Regions from separate parts of the Homo sapiens genome. Here region 2 is linked to region 1. The links come from fine-mapping of genetic effects on gene expression. Tissue or cell type: caudate. Region 1 holds a variant in brackets; the other region holds the start of a gene. All regions are shown on one strand. Distances are from middle to middle.

What was found. PIP is the estimated chance that this variant, and not a neighbour inherited with it, causes the effect.
Region 2: ITPA starts here. The variant in region 1 is fine-mapped to the expression of ITPA in caudate (GTEx, PIP 0.98).

Annotation. Positions count from the first base shown.
Region 1 is chr20:4,097,906-4,100,592 of GRCh38, forward strand. No RefSeq gene overlaps it. Among named protein-coding and RNA genes, the nearest start is that of SMOX, 50 kb to the right of the region's middle. The variant A/G (reference allele first, on the strand shown) is at 1,433.
Region 2 is chr20:3,208,148-3,210,834 of GRCh38, forward strand. ITPA (inosine triphosphatase) reads left to right here and starts at 1,351. Exons shown (of 8, transcript NM_033453.4): 1 at 1,351-1,470. The coding sequence starts at 1,405. RefSeq lists enhancers at 946-1,594, 1,477-1,546.

The DNA.
Region 1 (2,687 bases):
AGTGGTTTAGCAAGATTGTAAGATACAAGATCACAATAAAAACATCAATTCATTTTATTTATTTATTTATTTATTTATTTATTTATTTATTTATTTTCAGATGGAGTCTCGCTCTGTCACCCAGGCTGCAGTGCAGTGGCAGGATTTTGGCTCACTGCAAGCTCTACCTCCCAGGTTCACGCCATTCTCCTGCCTCAGCCTCCCGAGTAGCTGGGACTACAGGTGCCCGCCACCATGTCCGGATAATTTTTTGCATTTTTAGTAGAGACCGGGTTTCACTGTGTTAGCCAGGATGGTCTTGATCTCCTGACCTCATGATCTGCCCGCCTCGGCCTCCCAAAGTGCTGGGATTACAGGTGTGAGCCACCACGCCTGGCACAAACATCAATTTATTTCCTTATACTAGCAAGGAATAATAGAAAATTGAAATGAAGCAAAACCATTTACAACAGCATGAGATACATAAAATACTTAAGAGCTAAATCTGACAAAAGATGTATGAGATATCACAATGAAAATTACTGATAGAAATTAAAGAAGATCTAAATAAAAGGAGAGATATAATGTGTTCATGGATAGCAAGACTCAATATTACAAAGTATCATTCCTTTCCAAATTGATCTGTAGATTCAATGCAATTCCAATCAAAATCCCAGCAGTCTTTTTTGGTGGAAATGTATAAGCTGATTCTAAAATTAACATAGAAGTGCAAAGGACTTGTAATAGCTAAAACCAGTTTGTAAAAGAAGAATAAAGTTGGATTTACACTACTTGACTTTAAGACTTAGAAACTGGCATTAATCAAGACAGTGTGAAATTGGCATCAAGAAAGAAAAACAGAACAATGAAACATAATACAGTACAGAAATAGACCTTCTCATATATGGCCGATTGATTTTTGACAGTGGTGCAAAGGCAATTCACTGGAGAAAGGGTAGTTTCTGTTTTAACAAACAGTGCATGAACATTTGTTTATCCATATACAGAAAAATGAACCTTTTATCTATACTTGGCACCATATAAAAATAAACTCAAAAGCGATCATAGACCTAAAACTATAAAACTTTAAAAATAAAACACAGGGGAAAATATTGTGATCTTGTTTCTGTTCTCTTTTTTTTGAGTCAGAGTCTCACTCTGCCACCGGGTCCAAGTGATTCTCGAGCCTCCGCCTTGCAAGTAGCTGGGATTATAAGCGCCTGCCACCATGCCCAGCTAATTTTTGTGTTTTTAGTAGAGACGGGGTTTCACCATGTTGGCCAGGCTGGTCTAGAACTCCTGACCTCAAACGATCGACCCATCTCGGCCTCCCAAAGTGCTAGGATTACAGGTGTGAGCCACCATACCCAGCCATAACTCCTGTTCTTTGAAAGGCACTTTTGAGAGAACAAAAAGACAAGCCACAAACTGGAAGAAGAATATTTGCAAGTTA[A/G]ATAACTGATAAAAGATGTATGTTTAGAATATTTTTTAAAAAACCTTTTAAAACTCAATATTAAGAAAACCAACAACTTAAACAAAAATGGGAAAACATTCTTCACCAAAGAAGAGAAACACATGGCAAATAAATTCACACAAAGATGTTCAATGCTCAACATTACTAGTCATAGGGAAATGCAAATTAAACCACAATGGAATATTACTATAAACCTCTTCCCTTTTATTTATTTATTTTTTTGAGATGGAGTCTTGCTCTGTCACCCAGGCTGGAGTGCAGTCGCGTGATCTCGGCTCACTGCAACCTCTGCCTCCCTGGTTCAAGCGATTCTACTGCCTCAGCCTCCCGAGTAGCTGGGATTACAGGCATGCGCCACCACACCCGGCTAATTTTTGTGTTTTTAGTAAAGACGGGGTTTCACCATGTTGGTCAGGCTGGTCTTGAACTCCTGACCTCAGGTGATCCGCCCACCTCAGCCTCCCAAAGTGCTGGGATTACAGGTGTGAGCCACCGTGCCCGGCCCTTCTTCCCTTTGTGTTAGAAAGATCTGATGTCACCACCTGAACTTATTTCCTGGGGCTGCTGTAGCAAATTATTACAATAATTTAAACAATAGAATAAACAATAGGATTAAAACAATAGAAAAGTATTCTCTCCGTTCTGGAGGCCAGAGGTCTGAATCATTGTGTCAGCAGGGTTGGTTCCTTCTGGGAGCTCTGAAGAAGAATCAGTTCCATGCCTCTTTCTTGGCTTCTGGTGGTTGCCAGCGATGCTTGGCATTCTTGGCCTTATAGACACATCACCAGCCTCTGCCTCTGTCATCACTTGGCATCCACCCTGAACGTCTCTGTGTCTTGGTGTCCAAATTTCTCTCTTGTAAGGACAGTATGGGATTAGGCCCACCCTAATCCAGTATGATTTCATCTTAGCTTGATTATATCTGCAAAAACCACTATTTTCAAATAAAGTCACATTCACCGGTACCAGGGGTTTGGAATTCAGTTTATCTTTTGGGGGGACACAGTTCAACTCACAACACGACCTTAACTAATAATCGAACTTGCATCATTTATAGTCAGACAACCAAACATTATGAGCTTCCTGATGTGATACATACAACATGACGTCATAGTGCCACCTTTGTATTCTTGCCAAAAATGTTTAACCCATATCTAATGAAACTGTTTAAATGAACTTCCAGGTTACAGGGAATATACAGGGTAGAGGAGTAAGTTAAATGACACCATGATAA
Region 2 (2,687 bases), 890 kb before region 1:
GGGAAGGTTTTCCTGAGCTGGGGCTTGAGCTGGCTAAGATCCAAGAAAGGCATCCATGTAAGGTGGGCTGTTTTTCTTCTTTTCAGGCTCCTCGGGGTAACTGATGTCCCCCAAGCCCTCCTCTGCCCCCAAATCCCCATGGCCACTCCTCTAGGGACTCTGCATAATGGTTAGTGTTTCTACTTCAATAAAAGAAAACAGGTCACCACCCAAAGCAGTGGTTCCCACACATTTTTTTTCTTTTTCAGACGCAGTTTTGCTCTTGTTGCCCAGGCTGGAGTCCGATGGCACGATCTCCGCTCACTGCAACCCCCACCTCCCGAATTCAGGCGATTCTCCTGAATCCTGAATTCTCTGAACTGGGATTACAGGCATGCACCACCATGCCCAGCTAATTTTGTACTTTTTGGTAGAGATGGGGTTTCTCCATGTTGGTCAGGCTGGTTTCAAACTCCTGACCTCGGGTGATCCACTCGCCTCAGCCTCCCAAAGTGCTGGGATTACAGGCGTGAGCCACCGGGCTTTCCCACACTTTGATGAGCATCAGAATGGCCTGAGGAGCTTGGTAAGAACTCAGACTCCCTCCCTTTCTTGTCCATGGGCAGAAGTGGCCATTCAAGAGGTACTGACACAGGGGTCCAGGCGGGGGGCAGAGGGCTGAGTCTCTGGAGGAGGGAGGTCAGATGACTTGCTGCAAAGAGAGTATCAGCAGAGGTTCAGCAGACCCACCTTTGAGAGGGCACTTCCTACTTTCTGTTGTGTTTGGAATGCAAAGATCTGGCTGAAACGGTGGCCACGGAGAAGGGGTGATAGATTTGAGAGGCTGGAGGGATGAGGAAGTGAGGAACTCTACATACTGAGCTCTCAAGCCTAGGAGTGAAAACGGGTGAGAAGTTTGGGCTTGTTTTAGGCTATGCCGAGTTTAAGTTCACAGTCGAGTGGATCATAGCTGGCGGGTAAGGCTGAAGGTGAGATCAGGATGAGGGTTTGGAAGCCCTTGCCTAGAAGGAGGCAGTTTTTTGAGACAGCATAGGAGAGCGCAAACCTCCAGGGTCACAGGGCTGCAGTCTTCTCCTTTCGGAGACCCCATTGCAGAGAAGAGCGAAAGCAGGGGCGGGGTGGGGGTGGGAGTGGTCTCTTCCGGTTCTTGAAGATAGCGTCCCTTAGGCAGGAGGGGTGGGTCACTCAGTCTCCAGGCTCGGGAGGCCCCCAGCAAATCGGACGCTGTGGGCTAGGCCGCCACCGCGAGCCCACTCGCCCGATACGCGCCTTGGGGTCCGGGTCGGCTTTCCCCGGGACCCCTGGCCGGAAACTGAGCCGTTCACTTCCGCCACCAGCCGGAAGTTTTCTGTCACTGGACGCCAAGGAGTTTTCGGTGGCTCAGCTGGGTAACCGGGGATCACCATGGCGGCCTCATTGGTGGGGAAGAAGATCGTGTTTGTAACGGGGAACGCCAAGAAGCTGGAGGAGGTGCCGGGAGGGTGTTGGGGGCTAACTGGGAGGCGGCTGGGAATAGGGCGGAGAAGGGGCTTCCGGGAGGAGGGAAGCACGTGGGAGGAGGCATGGAGAGAGAACAGAATTCAGCCCGGAAGAATGGGTCCTGACCCGGCTGTGTGGAAAAGCTGGGGCGCAAGAAGGGAGTGGCTGCAGAATCGGGGCGCCCCGGGGTTGGCGAGGGAACGAGGGTCTCGACAGATCCCGACACAGGGCTTGTGTGGTCAGCGACTGCGGGACCCGGAGGAGTAGCGGGGCTCTTAACAACCGCCCCGAAGGTCACCTATTGAAGTAGACCCCAACCCAGTGTCCCGACACTCTTCTGGGACTTATCCACATCCCGCTGCTGGGCCAGGGCTAGCAGGACCCAGAGAGGGCGTGGGACGGAGTTCCACACTGAGCAGTCCGTGCCTCACCACCGTCCTGAAATGTTCTAACCTCTTTTCGCGTGTGTGAAATGGGGATGATGCAGGACATTTGCTTCACAGCGCTATAGAGAGGAGGAGTAAAGGAGGCAGTGGATCTAAAGTTTCTGTTTGCAGGGACTTTGTGGCTAGCAAGTAACAGAAACACACAGGGAGCTCATGTAAGCCACCAGATGACTCCTGTGGGAATATAGTGTTATCGTGTCCCACAGGACCTGAAGTTCTCTCAAGAAGCTGACTTGTCCTTGTTCTCTCTGGATGCTGATCCCTATTCCTGTTCATATCTTTCCCCTTTCTTCCCTGCTGGGGGATGGAACAATGAGGCTTCTACCAGATATCAGCTCCGACTGGCTTTGCTTGAATCAAGAGTTTGCCCCTGTTCAATCAGCCATAGCCATGGAGTGGGGGTCATGTGTGGGGGATCAGGATGACACCCACTGGATATGTCTGAGGCAGACCAGTGGGGTGTAATCACTAGGGACACCTACATTTGCCTGTAGTGTAGGGAGGGACTGATGTCACTTTGGTGCCAGGACTGAGTGGCCTTCTCAGGAACCAGAGCCTTTTGCCGAAAAAAGGTTTGGGATCCTGAGGCCAGACCAGTCAGGCAGTCCACCCTGAACAGAGCCCATGCAGGACAGTGGGCATGAGACCCCAAACCTCTGGCTGAGAATATTGCCCTCACTTAAAGAAGGAGCTGGAACCCGAGTGCAGTGCCTCACGCCTGTAATCCCAGCACTTTGGGAGGCTGAGGTGGGCAGAACATCT